2 separate regions of the Homo sapiens genome follow, and region 2 is linked to region 1. Evidence: fine-mapped QTL for protein levels in blood plasma. A gene starts in region 1. The other region holds a variant in brackets. All regions are shown on one strand. Distances are between the middles of the regions.

Region 1 (9,720 bases):
TCCATATGTTTATTATGTTTAGTTGGCTTGTGGTGTTATCTATTTCTTTATTGATCTGTATGGTTGTTTAAGTTATATAATTTTAGTACAGCAAGAATTTGTTTATATGGTATAGGGTAGAACATTTAGTGCTAATGTCACCCTCTTCCCTCCTTATAAATTAAAAGGTAGCATGCCCAGGGTTCCAAGCTTCTTATGTATTCCTCACTCCATGAGGCTTGCTGAGATCACTAAATATCAGTTGTGCCTTCATAAGAAGGGAGGCACTGAAGAACTACATCCTTCTGCACCAACACGTATCTTTGATCTCATGTATGTTCTCTGCACTGCTTCTGTGGTAGTTCAATAACAAATTGAAGCACAAGTAACTTTATCCATGAATGAGATACCATTCTTCCCAATCTTTGAAATCTAGATCAAGTAGTCTGGTCTACTTTAAATAATTACACCAATATCTCCTAAAAACCCTACTGGATCTCCACTACCACCCCCAAATTACAAATTATAAAGTGCAGCTCATGTACTGGTATTGAAGTAATGCTCACTGTCACATCAAAGGTAAGTAAGGCACACAAAGAAAAGACAATCACAGGATATGCAATATGTGTTGTATAGTGTGGGAGAAGTTGCTGGCTGATCACAAGGGTAATTTCCTTGGCACTAGATGTGACCATTACCTGGTTCCAGCCAACAGAATGTAAATAGAAGACCTGTATGCCATTGTCAGCCCTTGCCCATAAAAACTTCCTATAATTATGAATTATAATTCTTTATGATCTTTCCCCTTCTGGTTTGATGCAAGCAATTTTGAAGGTCATGGTTGAAAACGGCAAAATTCCAAGGTAGGAAGTTGCAGAATCCCTGAATCATTACTTGGAGGAGAGTCATTTTATTAGTCAGAGTTCATCAGAGAAGCAGAATCAATAGGGTGTGTGTGTGTGTGTGTGTGTGTGTGTGTGTGTGTGTGTACATACAGGCATACCTCATTTTACTGCACGTTGATTTATTGCATTTTTCACAAATTGAAGGTTTCTGGCAACACTGCATTGAACAAGTCTACAGCTGCCATTTTTCCAACACTATAGTCACTTTATGTTTCTGTGACACATTTTTGTAATTCCTTTTTTTTTTTTTTTTTTTTTTTTGAGATGGAGTCTTGCTCTGTCACCCAGGCTGGAGTGCAGTGGCACAATCTCGGCTCACTGCAACCTCTGCCTCCTTGGTTCAAGCGATTCTCCTGTCTCAGCCTCCCGAGTAGCTGGGATTATAGGCGCGCGCCACTATGCCCGGCTAATTTTTGTATTTTTAGTAGAGACGGGGTTTCACCATATTGGTCAGGCTGGTCTCCAACTCCTAACCTCAGGTGATCCGCCCGCCTCGGCCTCCCAAAGTGCTGGGATTACAAGCGTGAGCCACCGCGCCGGGCCTTCTTTCACTCTCAACACACCTATTTAACACACTTTTTGTACATGCTATTTCTTATAACTGCGATGCCTTTCTGCTGTTATTCAGTTTTAATGGCTGACTGAGGATCCGACCAACACTGGTATATTCCAGAAGTGGTGTTTGACAATCACCTATTACTTAAAGTTTTAGTTGTCATGTGGCTTCAGGAATGCAATGTAGAATGATATAATAAAAAGTACACCCAACATGGCACAATCGCACCAAGTTTCTAGTTTTATTATTAAAAAGACAAGTGATAAAAACTGCTGTGGGCCTGTTTTCTCATTTGTGACGTGAACTAGACAATCCAAAGATTCTTTAAAGTTCATAATTCTAGTTTTCTATTTAAAAACACCAGTATTTATTAGGTACTTAAAAAGTACTACAGCTAACTTACAACACTTCAATTTCTAGACAAATGCATCAACATACTTACATCATTTACACACAATAATTAACCTTATCAACTAGCTAAGACAGAGAGTACAGAATATCTTGTTCTGAGGATTTGGAGATGAGATCTAAATGTTACTGGAAGATCAAACCAATAAGACGTGAAGGCAAAACTCCAAACTGAAAACAGGTCAAACTTACAATGACCCAAAGGAGGGCTACCTCGAGTGATGTCGACATTTGTAAAACAAGCAAAATCATCAGATGAGATCGGGATTTTGCCTGCTTTTAAGCAACAAAAAGTTTATACGTTAATGAACTCTTTTCTAATTTGAGACTTCTTCCTGTGGCCACGTTATTTACCTTTTCTCTCCCAGTCCTGAGCTTTGGTTGCCATTTGCTTTTAACTCCCAAGCAAACACCTCCTCTTTGTTGCTTGGGCAGATGCTATAAATAAAATCAGCGAAAGTGTCTGATTGATGGTAAACAGGCCTGGGGCGATAATGAGTCTAGTAATTAGGGCCTCTCTGGATTCAACCCAGCCCTTTCGCCCGCCCCCCGGCGGCGCACAATGGGCTCTGCGCGGGTATCGAGGGAGCGGCCAACAGTCCCTGGCCCCACCGCCGTGAAGTGGGGTCCCTTCGCTTCCACATAGGTGGAGACTGAGACAGCCGAGCCTATTTTGATCTCGTTTGGGTTTCTGTAAGGAGCAGTCAGCAGAGTGAGCAGCGCCCAGACGCGCCCCGGGCCCCCTCTACAACCATTGGGAGAGCGCCCCGGGCTCAAGCGTGGAACGGGGCTGCAATGGCAACCGCTGGAATAACGGCCTCGGCTCCCGGTGGCTCCTCAAGCCCGCAGGGGAGGCCGGCCGGGCTAGGCACCTAGCTGTCCCCGTGCTCGTCCGCCCCAGCCCGGGCGCAGCAGGTGGATGCGGCGGTGCTGAAGACACAAAGGGTCCCAGGTGGCACCACCTCCTGCGTCCACCCACGGGGCCGCCAGAGCCCAGTCAAGACCCTAGCTCGCTGCAGCCCCATCGCCAGACTCAACATCCACCCTCACTTGGCCCCGACCGGTTCAGCCCTCTGGCGGCAAAGTAACGGGGTGCCTGGGGGAAGCAGCAACGACTCCGCTTCCTCACCCCAATCTGCGCGCAAAGGGCAGCGGGACAGCGGGAACGCGGCCTGCTGCTCACGCACCTCTCTTGCGGCCTGTTTTCGGCAGTGACAGCTCAGATGTCCAAGTCGTTGCCACTTGGTCCCCGCGTCTCTTCAGACCAGTCCCGCCGGCGGCCGCGCAGCAGCGACTACTAACCGCGCGTGCGCGTGCGGTGGCGGGCGGGAGGCGGTGGCGGCCCGAGGTGTGTGCTACGCGCTCCTGCTCCGAGGGGCTCAACCGCCTCCAGGGGGAGCCGCACATGGAGCCTGTGCCGCCGCCGGCCGGTTGTGGCCTGGACCCCGCTCCCGGGTTAGCCCAGGAGGAATTCCCCCTGCAAGTCCGAAGACTTTTCCTCCTCTGAGCTCCCGCCCTCTCTGCAGACCGTGCTACCTCCTGTTGCGCAATGATTGGGTCCTGAATTTTATGTAAATCATATTTATGAACAACGTCCAGTAATAAGTGCAGCAAGATTAGGGCTCTAGGTTTTCTCCAGAGTTCTAGATGTTAACAGATCTGCAGTCATGGTGATTAATAAGGAGCTTTCCTGTCTGGTGTGTGTATATGACAAATACAGATGCGTTAAGTGTTAATAAATACATTGTATATAAAACAATATGTTCTTTTTCTCTCGAACAACACTATTAATAAGAGCTGCTAACATTTATTGTGTTCATTGTGCTCTAAGGGGCTTACATTCATTGTTTAACCTTCGTGGCAACCCAGGTGATGAAACTGATGGCAACTTGCTCGAAGTTACACAACATGTAAACAGTGGAAACGGGATGTAAATCAGGCCTGTCTCTCTCAGAGCCTGTAGTTTCAAACACATTGAAATAAATCTTAGCATAAACGTAGTTTATGCTATGATTATGCAATCACAAGCTGCTTTGCCTTTTATATATTGGATCAATATTAATTTTACTACTTAATATTTTATAGTAAATCTTGACTTTGAATTTGGTATAACAATTTAATTTTATTGGAAGATTAATTAACAACATTTAATTGACTTGTGAGTCTAAGACCCTTGTTGAAGAGTTTCAATCTTAAGGGTTTGGTGGCATTCCGTGCACAACGTATCATTATTGGCTAGGGGTCAAGATCACTGAGTTTTTTCACATTGCTTCACTAATTAAGACCAGCATTTCTAAACTTTTGACTTTGTCATCTCTGGGAGAGTGTTTGGATAGTGTTAAAATTTACTGGTTAAAAAGACATTTTGTTTGAGATACTTTGTAACAATATTATACCCTTTATTTCTTTCTTCCGTCCTTCTGACTTCTATTATTCAACATACTTCTGTGGCCCATAACAAATACACTTGAACTGCTAGAGAGGGATTTTTTAAAGGATCCATTCAAAGTTTGCAGTGAGGAAGCTGAAAACTAAAAATGTAAGAATAGTGAATTTTTGCAAGATTTAGTAGTATCTTCTTGGTCACATAGTACTCAAAACCTTGAGAACATTTTTTTACTCTTTGGCTGCTACATTCACTGCCTCCATAAATTAAACTCTAACTCCATAAAATCATCTAAAAGAGGTCCTCACCCCCTCCAGTCCCTGTGCCATTTCTCTAGTTTAGATTCTCACTACTTTAGAAACTGTTGTTCAGAGTTACCTAACTAGTTGCCCCCCTTCAGAGCCTCCCACCTACACTTCGTAGTTTAATCCTCAGCTCATTCAATAGTTTCCAATGACCCTTCATTACCCACAGCATGAAATCTAATCTCTAACCTTGAAATTTAAGGCCTTAACATATCTCCAAAATTATTTGCCACTTATTGAAAGGATGATTGAATATAATATTTATAATTTGTTTAATAGGCAACTTTTCATCAGAATAATACAATGTGATAATGTCAGAGGAGAAAGAATAATCTGCAAATAAGACAAGGGGTATGGCTTTTGAGAGTGATGTAGTGTTTAATAATACAAGCGGAGGAGTCCCAGAATGTAATGCTGAATGGTAGAGTCGTGAAGTGTTCTGACACATCAAAGTTGAAGAGAGATTTGGGAAGAGACCAAGGCAATGTAATCAAGATTGGAGGGACTAGAGTAATCAGAAATCTAGAAAAACATAAAAAGCAGGAAAGGTGACCTGGCATGGTGGCTCATGCATGTAATCCCAGCTCTTTGAGAGGCTGAGGCAGGTAGATCACTTGAGCCGAGCTGCCTGAGACCAGCCTGGGAAACATGATGAAACCCCATCTCTACAAAAAAATACAAAAAATTTAACTGGGCATGGTGGTGCATGCCTGTAGTCCTAGCTACCTGGGAAGCTGAGGTGGGAGGAAGCTGAGGTGGGATGAGCCCAGGAGGCAGAGGTTGCAGTGAGCCCAGATAGTGCCACTGCACTCCAGCTTGGATGGCAGAGTGAGACATTGTGTCAAAAAAAAAAAAAAAAAAAAAAAAAAAAAAAAGCAGAAAGGTTCATGCTCCTTGATGGAACAGAGTGATGTCCTGTTGGAAGCCTGTTTTGTAATCAAAATCAGAGCTGTGTTTTATTAATGTTCTACTATGTGCAAGTTGCTATATGCAATTGACCCACAGGTATCATCCTTATTTTACTTATGAGGAAATAGACCCAGATCAGTTACATAACTTATTCACACAGATCTTAAGATGCAGAGTGAGGATTCAAAGCCTGTGCCCTTTCCACAACACCTTGCCACTTGAAAAATGCAGAATATAGGAAATGCCTCGATTATCAGGATTAAAGAGCTATGCAGAATGAAGTTTTAACTCAAATACAATGAGTGGACTCAGAACCTAGATAATTCAAATAATACTTTAAAAATGTTTGTATATTTTCATATGTTTAGGAATGTGCTTTTTAATGGTGCAGAAAATAGAGAAAAGGAAACAAAGTATTCCACAAGTATTTCCAGTGGGTTGACTTTTATTTTCAAGATGTATAATTATGTCTATGGCAGAAAATGATCTTTTCTTTCTTATATTTATACTTATTTTCTGAGGTTTTTTTCCTTATTACTTTAACAAAAATATCAAACAATAGTAAATAATAGTAATGACAATAGTCATCATTGTTTTTCCCAGAATTCGTCTGGTTAAACTATATAGTTGGCAGAATGAGCCCATGCTGAGTTTTTTTCTTGTGTCTCAAGATAACCCCCCTCAGAAACACTACCCGACTTTAGGATTTATAGAATGATATACAGCTATAGTTATCAAAGAGTTATCAAAGAGTATTAGTATCAAGGCAAACAAATCAATGGAACAGAATAGATTCTATATAGACTTACATGTGTATGTATTATGGCCTGGATATGGTTGGTTTGTCCCAACCAAAACTCATGTTGAAATTTGGTCCCCAGTGTGGCAGTGCTGGAAAGTGGGGCCTAATGGGAGGTATTTGGGTCATGAAGGTCCTGTCCTCGTAGGTGGCTTGATGCCATTGCAGTAGTGAGTGAGTTCTTGCTCTGACGAGACTGGATTCATTCCCATGAGAATGGGTTGTTATAAAGCTGGGTGCCCCTCAGGTTTTCCCTCTTTGCATGCGTCTGCTTCCCCTTTGACCTTCTCTGCCATCTTTTGGCCTAGCACAAAAGCCTCACCACAAGCCAGAGCCATGTCCTTGAACTTCCCAGCTAGCCAGACTGTGAGTTAAATAAATCTCTTTTCTTTATAAATTACCCATTCCCAGGTGTTCTGTTATAGCAACACAAAACAGAATAAGACAGTGTGGGGAACTGGTTTTCAACATAGGTACACATGCAGTTGGTAGAGAAAGCCTAGTCTTTTCAACAAATTGTGGTGGTACAATTGAATATTCACATGTAATAAGTACATTTTTCAATCCATACCACACAGCATATATAAAAAAAGAGACTGGCTGCATTTTGCCCCGTCTTAGATATTTGTGGAACTTTGAACTTGAGGGAGATGATTTAGGATATATGGTGTAAAAAATTTCTAAGCAGCAAAGCACTCAAGAGGTGACTTGGGTGCTATTAGAGGCACTCCGTTTTAAAAGGGAAACAGAAAATAAAAGGTTTGAAAATTTGCAGCCTGACAATGTGATAGAAATGAAAATCTCCACTGCAGAAATTTTCATAAGTAACAAGAAGCCAAATGTTAATCCACACGACAATGGGAAAATGTCTCCACGGCATGTCAGAGGTCTTCATGTCAGCCACTCTCATCACAGGTCCAGAGACCTAGGAGGAAAAGACAGTTTTGTGGGCTGGGCCCAGGGCTCCTCTGCTCTGTGCAGCCTAGGGACTTGGTACTCTGTGTTCCAGCTGCTCCAGCCATGGCTAAAAGGGGTCAACGTACAGCTCAGGCTGCTGCTTCAGAGGGTGGAAGCCCCAAGCCTTGGCAGCTTCCAGGTGGTGAGCCTGTGGGTACCCAGAAGTTGAGAATTAAGGTTTAGGAACCTCTACCTAGATTTCATAGGATGTATGGAAACGCCTGGATGCCCAGGTGGAAGTTTGCTGCAGGGGCGGGGGTCTCATGGAGAAGCTCTGCTAGGGCAGTGCTGAAGGGAAATGTGGGGTCAGAGCCCCCCACACAGAGTCCTTGTGGGGCACCACCTAGTGGAACTGTCAGAAGAGGGCCACCATCCTCCAGACCCCAGAATGGTAGATCCACTGACAGCTTGCGCTGTGCACCAGGAAAAGCTGCAGACACTCAACACCAGCCTGTGAAAGCAACTGGGAGAGAGGCTATACTTTGCAAAGCCACAGGGGTGCAGCTGCCCAAGACCGTGGGAACCTACCTCTTGCATCAGCGTGACCTGGATGTGAGACATGGAGTCAAAGGAGAGCTTTAAGATTTGACTGCCCTGCTGGATTTCAGACTTGCATGGGGCTTGTAGCCCCTTTGTTTTGGCCAATTTCTCCCATTTGTAGTGGCTGTATTTACCCAATGCCTGTACTCCCATTGTATCTAGGAAGTAACTAACTTGCTTTTGATTTTACAGGCTCATAGGTGGAAGGGACTTGCCTTGTCTCAGATGAGACTTTGGACTGCAGACTTTTGAGTTAATGTTGAAATGAGTTAAGACTTTGAGGGACTATTGGAAAGGGATGATTGGTTTTGAAATGTGAGGACATCAGATTTTGGAGGGGACAGGGCAGAATGATATGGTTTGGCTGTGTCCCCACCTAAATCTCATCTTGAATTGTAACTCCCACAGTTCCCAAGTCTCATGGGAGGAACCTGGTGGGAGATAATTGAATCATGGGGGTGGGTCTTTCCCATGCTGTTCTTGTGATAGTGAATAACTCTCATGAGATCTGATGGTTTAAAAAAAACAGGAATTTTCCTGCACAAGCTCTCTTCTCTTGTCTGCCACCATGTGAGGTGTGACTTTAACCTTCTGCCATGATTTTGAGATCTCTCCAGCGATGTGGAACTGTAAGTCCATTAAACCTCTTTCTATTGTAAATTGCCCAGTCTTAGGTATGTCTTTATCAGCAGCATGAAAATGGACTAATAAATATATAAATCAGTGGGGCCATCTGGCTCTACATTTGGGGTGGAAAGATTTAGAGTTGGATTTTCTACCATTACACACACACACACACACACACACACACACTATTTTAATGGAAATAGAGACCTAAACTTTAAAAATTATAGAAGTTTTATAATATAATATATGGGACTATATGCTTGATGTGGGTAGGTAGGTTGTTTTAAACAATACGAAAAGTGAAAAAGTCATAAAAGAAATTATTAATATATTTGGCTATCTCAAAGTTGAAAATTTTGTATGTCAAAAGACAATACAAAATAAGTTTAAGACAAAAGACTTTCTGAGAAAAGTAATTTTAGCCTATGACAAACTATTAATATTTAGTTTAGGAGTTTAATTAGGTTCCTGTATGTGTTTTAAGAACCTCATATTTAAATGAAGAAGAAGAAGACAAATAGCTCATTAAAAAAATCAGGATTGGGAGGCCGAGGCGGGCAGATCACGAGATCAGGAGATCGAGACCATCTTGGCTAACATGGTGAAACTCCATCTCTACTAAAAATAGAAAAAAAAATTAGCTGGGCATGGTGGCGGGCGCCTGTAGTCCCAGCTACTCGGGAGGCTGAGGCAGGAGAATGGCGTGAACCTGGGATGCGGAGCTTGCGGTGAGCCGAGATTGTGCCACTGCACTCTAGCCTGGGCGACACAGCGAGACTCCATCTCAAATAAAAAATCAGGAAAGATATAAATATGTGAGAAAATTTAAACCCTACTTGTAATTTGAGAAAGGCAAACTAAGACTATAACAAAATACTGCTTTCACTAGACTGGCAACAATTTCAAAGCTCACTAATAGCAAAGGGCAAGACTTGGGAAAACTGCTGCTTTCAAACACTACTCTTGGGGATATATGTTGATATGGCTATTTCTGGTGGCAATTTGGCAGTATCTGTTAAAATAAAAAATATTCATACCTTTTGAGTCAGCAGTACCACTACTGATTATTTAAACTAGGAAAAAGACTCTATGCTCAAGTAGGCACCCAGAAGAATGTACATTGAAACACTGTTGTAACACTGAAAAAAATATTTAAATAGTAATGGATCAATTTCTGCATCAGAGGAGGAAATGCTAAATAAATTATGCTCTATTCATATTTTAGAATATTGTGTTGATGTTAAAAAGAAAGAATTAGATCCATGTTGGTGACACAGAAAAAATTAAGTAACAAATATTGAGTGAAAAATCAACTGGCATTTTAACCAAAGGCTTTTAAAAATCCAAAG
Region 2 (9,720 bases), 56 kb before region 1:
TCACGTTTTTATTCTCCTTTCACAGCACCGAGACTGCACAGAATCATTCCTAATTATTTCCATTTTTATGATAAAGTCCAAAGCTTGATTCCATAAAGACCTTGAAATCCTTTGGAATTCTTGCTTGAAAAAACTCTAAAAGTACATTGGTAATTTCTTACATTCCCTCTACCTATTGAACAAATAAATGAAAATGACTCATCAAATTTATTTACTTTTGGTTATTATCAGAAATTATAATCTTGAGAAAGTATACATGAACACCTTAATTTACCAAATAGCTATATGGTATACTGTTGAGTATAGTATACTAGGCTGTAGTATACAATTACGTCTAGTTTTGAAATCAAGTTTTAACAAATAGGTTATATTCTTTACTCACCAAATTCAGAACAGCATTCATTCTCCAATGAATTCAATAACCTTTCAAGTGAAAAAAATGAGTAAAAAAGAAAATGTGAGTTCTTATTTAGGAATGAGATGGAACATGTTCTGCAAATTAATGAGCTTAAAGCATCAGACAACACACCTGGTTATACTTGAAAGTTATCAAAAATGCTTCCATTTAGCATATTTCACCTTAAATATCCACAGTACGTTTAGAACCCTCTAATTAAGACAAAATAGCAGCTTGTATGTGCACAATGAGAGTGTGCCAGACTGGAACATCAAAAAGATATTGGAAGTTCTCTATTTCATTATTTATCATTTCTTCCCCCACATAATATATTGCCTTGTACAGTTTTCAATTAGGACTTCCCCCATTCTCTAGGAAAAAAAATGTAATTTTGTGCCTTTATTTAGATGAACTATATTATCAATATTCACATAGTCCAGGTCGCATGAATGTTCACCTTATAATCAAATATTTCTATGCAATCTCAGTGGTTTCTATTTGTACTTATAGCCTTTCCTTATTCAGAAGGGGGATTTTTTTTTTTTTTTTTTTTTTTTTTTTTTTTTTTTTTTAGATGGAGTTTCGCTCTTGTTGTCCAGGTTGGAGTGCAATGGCGCCATCTCAGCTCACTACAACCTCCACCTCCTGGGTTCAAGCAGTTCTCCTGCTTCAGCCTCCCAAGTCTGAAAGCTGAAAATAAGCTGAAAGCTGAGTCATGCAAGAGCTGCCTTTTTATGTTTACATTTTAGTTTAAAATTACTTTCTAATTTTTTTGTGTGTGACTTCCCCTGTGACCCATGGTTTGTTTAGAAGTACATAGTTTGATTTCCAACTATTTGGAGATTTACAAATATCTTTCTGTTACTGATTTCTAGTTTAATTTGTGGGTAGAGACAATAATTTTTACTGTTTCAATTATTTTAAATTTGCTGAGATTTGTTTGATGATACACAGTGGAGTCTATTTTGATGAATTTTCCAAGTGCATTGGAAAAGAAAGCATGTTCTTCAGTTATTGGGTGCAATGTTCTACAAATGTCCATTAGGTCAAGTTGGCTGATAGGATTGTTCAGGTCTTCTATATCAATAGTTCAGAAATTTGCCAGCCTTTTTTCAAAATCACCTTCGTAACTTTCAAAAATACTAATGCCTGTATCTCACTCCTTAAGACTGTAATTTATTCTGAGGTGTGGTCTGTTCACTAGAATAATTAAAAGATTCCCAGGTGATTCTAATATACTGAAAAGTTTGGGACCTGAGTTCTGTATACTTAAATTATCTGTATAGTTGTTTTACAAATTGCAGAGCAGGGAGTAATGAACTGTTTGAATTCAATTAATTTTTGATTCATTTCTATTTTGTAGCACTGTGGTTAGGATTTTGTGTCTTCTTGATGAATATGCCCCTTTATCTAATTGTTTTAATGTTATTTTACCTAATTATTAGTGAAGGTAAACATTTTTTAAAAACCTTTCTGGCCGTTCAGTTTTCCTCTTCTGTAAGTGGCCTACTTACGTTATTTGCATATATTTATCTTGAGTTGTCTTTTTCTTACTGATTTGTCTGAATTCTTTTTTTTTTTTTTGAGACGGAGTCTCACCCTGTCGCCCAGGCTGGAGTGCAGTGGCACCATGTCACTGCAAGCTCTGCCTCCTGGGTTCATGCCACTCTCCTGCCTCAGCCTCCCGAGTAGCTGGGACTACAGGCGCCCGCCACCACGCCCAGCTAATTTTTTGTATTTTTAGTAGAGACGGGGTTTCACCGTGTTAGCCAGGATGGTCTCAATCTCCTGACCTCGTGATCCACCCGCCTCGACCTCCCAAAGTGCTGGGATTACAGCCGTGAGCCACCGCGCCTGGCCTGAATTCTTTATATTTTGAGAGTTTTACTATATTCTGCCAACCTGTGGCTTGTTTTTTAACTTGATTAGAGATGGCTTCTCTTCTGTTTGTAAAACTTCCAAATTTTAAAATAATCAATATTTTACATCTTTCCTTAATGAATCGTGCTGTTTCTTCCCTACGGCGATATACAGACATACGCTTTTCTTCTAAAAGTTTAGAGTTTTGTTTGTCACATTTTGGATCATTATTTCATTTGGAATTTAGTTTTATTTCTGTCGTGGTATCAGGATTGAATTTCTTATTTTTATATAAATAGCCAATTTAACTAGAACCACCATAACTTGTGTTTTCTATATCCCACGAACAGTTACTATACTAATTTACACTCCCAACAGTAATGAATAATAGTTTTTTCCCCACAACCTTAGAAACAGTTATTCCTCACCAGACATCTTTATTGTATACCAACTTCCAGGTACCCTTTTTTTCCTAATTTTCTTTTTGTCTATTCTTGTGTCAATACCACTTTTTTAAAAGTTGCTTTAAAATAGAATTACCATATGATTCAGCACAAATTAACACACACTTCTGGGTGTATATCCAAAAGAACTGAAAAGAGGGTCTCAAAGAGACATTTGCACACCCATGTCCATAGCAGTATTATTCACAATAGCCAAAAGGAGGAAGCAACCTAAGCGTCCACTGATAGATGAATAAACAAAATGTGGCATAATACACATAATAAATGATATATAGAACTATTCAGCCTTAAAAAGGAAGTTCTGCAATATGCTATAACATGGATGAACTCTGAGGCATTATGCTAAATGAAATAAGCCAGTCATAAAAGGGCAAATTCTGTATTATTCCACTTAGGTGAGGTACCTAGAGTAGTCAAACTGATAAACACAAAGTAAGATGATTACTGCCAGAGGATGAGGGGAATAGGAAATGGAGAGTTGCTCTTTAATAGGTATACAGTTTTAGTTTGGCAAGATGAAAAGAGAGATTGGTTCTGGAGATTGGTTGGAGAACAATGTGGAATGTATCTTATACTACTGAAGTTAAAAATGGTTAAGATGGTAAATTTTATTCTATGTATATTTCACTACAATTAAAAATATTTAAAAATACTGTTCTAGCAAAAACAAAAGGTTGCTTTTAATAGTTTCTCTTGATCTTTGGTGTCCTGCAATTTCACCGTTGCATAGAATTCTTATATTAATCCTGCTCAAGAATAAGTACTTCTTGAATCTGAAAATTCAAATATTCCACAATCTTGGAAAATTCTTAGTTATTACTCTTTGAATACTGCCTGCATCCATTCTCTCTAGTCTCTCTTTTTTGGCACTCCTATTAGATTTATGTTGGATTTTTTTTCATTTATTTAGCTCCTACATTGCATTCTAGTAAATTTCCTCAAACTGAATATTGCAGTCGCAGCCAAATGCATAGTTCTCAAAACACTGAATAGAAGATATTTTTATATAGCTCTTAAAATGATTAAGGCGATGTGTCAGCAAACTGTGCCAGAAGTAAAAAGTCAAGAAACAGGGAGACATAAGGCTTGTCTCTACAGCTTAGGAGGCTGTGCCAAAGCCAAAATAATAATGTATTGCTGTGGATGTCTACCTTGTACTCAACGAATATTAAAGCAGGATGCCGCTTTGTGTCAAGTACTAGATTACGATGAACGGTGTCACGAAGAACACTCCAC[T/C]CTTGATACCGTATATGTGACCTTGAGCAAGAAATGTGTTCACGCTCAGGCTTCAGTTCCTTTCTGTGGGTTGCTGTGAGGCTCCACAGGGGTAAGGTAAGCACAAGTGCTATGCCTCAGTACCACTAGGGTATTTTCTCAATTCTAAAATATTAAATGGCCACGCACTACAGATTTAATAATAGTTTCGGAGGAGGGGCGTGAGGAGAGGAACATTCCACTAGCTCAACTATAAGCTTTCCGATTTCGGAAATAAGAAAAATATGAAAAAGTCTGCTTTTAGAATTAAGGAACGACGGTGTCGCGTTGACTTTCTCTGCTTGGTTCGCAAACGCTCTTTTCTCGAACTTGAATGACTTCTCTGTCGCTCATACCAACCTCTTTCCTGAATGACTTCTCTGTCGCTCATACCAGCCTCTTTCCTGATTTTCCACACTGGGATTCTCACTCCAATTCTCAGGTTTCCTGATAGACCTGATGAGCCGCTTCACCAGCGCCGCTTAGCTTCGCTTCTTTACTGTCATTGGCTGTCGCTGTTCCAGGTCCCGCCCACAGCGACCTCAATCCTGATTGGATGTCAGTGTCCTTTTGTTATGGCAAAGGTGGATCCCGGTGCTTTGAGATTGGACGACTGGGGTGAGGCGGGCAGCTAATGCGCAGGCGTGTATTCTCGAGTCAGGATTGGCGGGCGAGCGGCTGGGACGGGATGGGATTCTTCTCACGGCGCACGTTCTGTGGGCGGAGTGGGCGGAGCTGCCGGGGTCAGTTGGTCCAAGTGTCCCGGCCTGAGGTGTCGGCCGGATCCCTCCTTCTCCCGGCGCCTCAAGCGGAAGGTGAGGGCCGTCCCGGGCAGCGGAGGGCCTGGCCCCAGGCGACTAGAGCTGCATCCTCAGTACCTCCGAGGGCCTGGAGGGCGGGGCGGGCTGGACGCGGCCCTGCGCACCGGGGGCCCGGGAGGAGCGGTCTCGGGCCTGGGCATTTGGTGGGCGGCGGAGGCCTGGCTCCCGGCAGAACCCTTGCGCGACCTCTTTTTCTCCTGTTTTCGTTGTCAGGCCCAGGCGTTCTTTGGGAGAGGGACCTCTCGCGGTCCCTGACGCAGACATCGTGTAGCTTTCTCCCCGCAGCTCCTGGGTCGGGAGCCGCTTTGCAGCTCTCGGCTCTGGAATTGGACTGCGGGAGGGGCGTTTGGGTGGAATGGGACCTGGCACGCCTGGACCTTCCCGTGGCTGCTCTGCGAGAGCCTGAGAGATGGGAGGGGAGGCTGAGGTGGGGAGGGAGCCTAGAGAGCCGTAAAATAAGGATTGGACCATTTTTCCAGGCGGCGAAAGCGGCACCTGGGTTTGTTTCCTGATCGTCTTCTCCCCCAGAGTCCTGCTGAACAAGTTTTGGGAAGAAAGGTTTGGAAAGGAGAAAGAGGATACATTCCTGAAAGGCAGGGCTTCTGTTATACAGTGTGTCAACCTCACACTATTACGCAACAATAAGGACAGATGCCATTCCAGGTTGCCAACACGTTTTCTATGCCCGAGGACCCAAAGCTGTGCCCATGTATTCTGGTACCTCTATTCCTGATTAAAATCAGTGTAGCTAGCCATTCTCTGAGAGTATAGCTTCCATTTAAATCCTCATTTGGCCAAACAGTTCCTTGATCTTGTGGAATTTGAAACTGGATTTATTTAACCAGGACAAGTCAAAGCAGAACTTGAACAGATCTGAACAGACATTATATTGAAGTTCCGTAGCTTGAAGGGAATGGAGTTTATTTTCAGTTGCTTAGTAAAGATTCCAGAGGAGTTTGACATCAGTGGTAGCAAAATGTTTGGCAAACTTAAGATTAGGGCCATATTAAAGTTTTTTCCATTGCATAATGGAAAAAGCATGGACTGTGAAGTTAGACCTGGGTTCAAATTCTTGGTAGAGACATTGGCTGTGAAACCTCTGAAACAGCTTTTCTGAAAGATATATAGACTTTCTGAAATTTAGTGTCCATATCTGTAAATTGCAGTTTCCTTCTGTTGATTTGATGAAATAACATATGCAAAGCATTTAGCACATTAATGCACGAAGACATTATTTTAGCAGTCTTAGTAGTTCTCCAGTATGACAGATGGTGAAATCAATTTTAGATGCAGAAAAGTTGAGTGGCTGAAGATGGACGGGTATTAGGAAAAAGTCTCAAAATCTGCAGGCTCAGATGTGACAATAGTTGTGGTGGAATGGTGGAAAAAACACTGGGCATTTGTTGTAGTCTTGGCCCTGTTGCTAACTACTTCTGTGGTCTTCAGTAAGCCATTGTCATCTTTGGCCTTGATTTTGTAAAATGAAGCAGCTGGACCAGATGGTTTTCTTTAAATTCTTTCTGTTGCCCAAATTAGAGCTAAAAGGTAGAGAAGACGATAGCAGACATTTATTGAATACCTACTATGTACTAGGTACTGTTGCCAACACATTGTATCTATCCACTCATTCTCACAACAAACCCATGAGATACGTACGGTTATTATCCACATTTTACAAATGAGGAAACTTAAGGCCGAGGTGTTAACCTTGCCCAGGGTTCCAGAGCTTATAAATTGCAGAGCTAGGATTTGAATCCAGGTAATCTGAATCCATATTGTTAATCATTGTGCCAGGCTGCCTCTTGAGGAGAGTGATATTGTGGATATTGTACACTATTAGAGATAACTGTAAAATAAGATAGGGGCATATTTGGTAAGATGATCGTCTTTGGTCACAGGTGTGTGTGCATGGCAAAAATTATTTAATTAAATGAATCTTGTCCCAATGTTTGCCACATTTCCTGGTTTGTATTCTCTCTATGCGTTCTGCCTCCTGGACTTAAATAATCAAAAAAGTAATTCTAGATTCCCTTCCACTAACCAAGGCTAGATACCCGAATTTACTGTGTTTTTTGAGAAACCTTTGAAAGGTCTGACCTAGCCATACATCAGAGCTGAAGAATCTCAGCGAACCATGTCCATTTCTGGGGTAAGGTGGTTTAGGATAGGCAGAGCAGCCTCAGCGCCCCAAATTCATTTCAGTGTTCCCACGCTTGAGCAGACTTGGTCTTAATTTTCTCGTTTTTCATCAGATTTGCGTTTATATATAGGAGCAGAAGGAGTTGAAAGTGAACTCTTAAGAGCATATTTGACATGGAATTAGATTGATGTTATAGCAACTATAGGTAAAAAAGGATTTTATAGTTGAAAAATTTGAAAAGCTCAGTATTAAGTATCTGTTATGATGTAGTACTGTGTTAATGTAGACTTTGGGCAGTTTGGGGATCAATACTATTTTAAAAGAAAAAATCCATGGCTAAAATACTTTGACATAAAGAACTCAGCAAGTCTTTTGATCCCATATGTCAAACAAATCAGTTTATTGCCCTAAATCTACTGAAAGACTTTGAATATATATTAATACAATAGTAGCATTTTGAGATGGGTCTATTTGATCACATCACAATAAAATACAATTGCTTCTTGTTCTTTTGTCGTGGAAAGGCAGCAGGTAATGCTGTGGTCCACTGTACTAAAGAGTAATGCCCTTATGCGTAGGGCTGCCAGATACAGTGGGCGGTTTTTTCACTGTGCAACACTTGGGATGCAATCTTACGTAGACTGTGGTGTGAATTGTGCTCTCTCGCGTTGTATACCCTTATAGCACTGTTCTTGTGGCACTACTTTTGTGCTCCTGCCTCTACCCTAATCTTGAGTGTAAGAGTAATTTTTCCTTTAATAAGCCCTCTCCACCCTGTTTTTCTGCTTTTTATTTTCTTTCACTTTTTCAGATGAAGTCACACTGTTGCTAAACCATGCATAGGTTTTCTATTGTTTGAATTATATGTGGTCAGAATTTCAGAAACTGGCTTCTTTTTCTTTACCTCTTATATTGGTGAGTTTGGAATACTTGTGTTTTTGCAGACTTTTTGGTTTAATTTAAATATTAGTCTGAAACATAAGCAAAAGAAGACTACCCTATCACTGTATTATATCTGACTTCAAAATCAGCTGTGTCGATTTTCTGATTATCTGTTGCTTTGGCTTGTATATCTTATAACTCTTCTTAGCTATCATGAAAATTCGTTCTAGCTGTAGCCTTAAAATCATTGGATATGAGAAATTTGAAGCACTTTTAATTTATTATTTAGCAAAGACAGATGCCAAATTGCAGCTTACTCTTGCTGAGCACTCCCACGATCACTTTTGCTTTTGGCTGTTGCCTCTCTCATCTTACTCAGACCTCTTTTAGCTGGATCAGTGGTTGAAATGGTATGAAAAGAGAATGACTGTAGTACCTGGTTACAGGTGTGCTTCTCTGTCAGGGAAATGTCAAATCAAGTTTTCACTGACACTCTTCCTCTTCAATTATAGTTAAAGAGACATGTTGATTCAATGGAGAGGAATAGTTTTTGGAGTGTGGTCTTTAAATACTACAGTAGGCTGAATAACTTTTAAAAAAAGAATTGTTGGAAAAATTTTAGTAATCTGAAATGCAGAGAACCTGAGAATTAAATAATGTGAAAAAGAGGTCGGGCAGAGCAACTTTAAATGCGGTTTAGATAAGGGGACAGATGCTAGAAGACTTGGAGTAGGTTTATTCAGCATTATTAAATTAATTGTATACCATTTGTAGTTAATTATTTAATAATGTTATACAAGGGATATTTCATATTTTTTTCTAGACTAGTGAGTGCTATCTAACTTGAACTATAAACTTGAAGTTTATGTATATGTACACTGGGCATTTTAATTTGAAGTTCATGTTAGTATCTAAAGTGTAACAGGATTTATGTAGATGTACACTGGGCATTTTCAAATTTCATGTTAGTATCTGAAGTACAACAAGATTTGTATTAACAGCTGTGAGAGAATGTGTAATACACTGATATCTCTATTGTGATTCTAGTTCTAGTATGTAGATATCCTTATTTAATAGGTCTGCTTTCTACTGTTTAAGATACGGAGGCATAACAATGCCTTGGGCATAGAAGATATTCAGTAAATACTTGTTGAAAGAATAACACTGACAGGTCTAGGTTGCTTCAATGTAGTAGATTAGATTGGTTAACAAATCTGTTTTCAGTAATAATCTGGTGACATTATTTAATATATTTTGAACATATTGAATGAAATGATTGTTAGCAATGGAGCAGAACATGTTTTATAGAAATTTTTTGTTCTAATATTTAGAAGTCTTCATTGTAATAATAAAATGTTAGTATTTATTTACTTATTTACATCCTGATTAGTCTGTTTTGATTTAACCCTGACTAGGAGCTGATGAATGGACATTTTTTCATTTATTCCATATTAATATTTTAGATGGTCTAGTATTTATCTTTTGAATTTTATTTGTAAAAAATTAAACAGTATATGTAAAGCAATACTTTAATGAAGAAGAATATTTGAAACAATTTTATCTTCATCCATACCGTCATCCTTAATATCAGAGCATTTTTTCATTTTCATGTTTTTTATGCATATTTATATATATTTCACATAATTTACATCAGTGAATATACAATTTTATACACATTTTTTCATGTAGTATAGTCATAATTATTTTCAGTAGCCACTCCATTAGAAATTATAACTGTACTCAGGAGGCTGAGGAAAGAGGATTGCTTGGGTCCAGGAGTTTAATACAGACTGGGCAACTTGGCAAGACCCTCATTTCTAAATAAATAAATAAAAATATGTCTTCTTAAAAAGAAAATCACAACTGTAATTTACCAGACTTTGAGTGGGCAGTTATGTTGTT

Direction of the effects. Positions count from the first base shown, and alleles are read on the strand shown. Strength reflects both the effect of a copy and how common the allele is.
As copies of T replace C in region 2, the plasma level of the protein whose gene starts at base 3,147 in region 1 goes down (weak association).

Evidence for each region. A credible set is the group of variants that fine-mapping cannot tell apart. PIP is the chance, under the fine-mapping model, that this variant and not a neighbour inherited with it causes the effect. Protein levels are from antibody-based Olink assays in UK Biobank. Linkage for the fine-mapping came from a reference panel and not from the study's own genotypes, which makes the PIPs less certain.
Region 2: its variant is the best candidate, but not a certain one, in a credible set for the plasma level of the CLGN protein (UK Biobank, PIP 0.68).

Annotation. Positions count from the first base shown.
Region 1 is chr4:140,424,502-140,434,221 of GRCh38, forward strand. CLGN (calmegin) reads right to left here and starts at 3,147. Exons shown (of 15, transcript NM_004362.3): 1 at 3,036-3,147. RefSeq lists an enhancer at 2,304-2,353.
Region 2 is chr4:140,368,928-140,378,647 of GRCh38, forward strand. SCOC (short coiled-coil protein) reads left to right here and starts at 4,719. Exons shown (of 4, transcript NM_001153484.2): 1 at 4,719-4,790. It overlaps SCOC-AS1 (SCOC antisense RNA 1), which reads right to left and starts at 4,465. Exons shown (of 5, transcript NR_033939.1): 1 at 4,336-4,465; 2 at 383-423. RefSeq lists enhancers at 4,402-4,903, 4,599-4,648 and a silencer at 4,809-5,008. The variant T/C (reference allele first, on the strand shown) is at 3,958.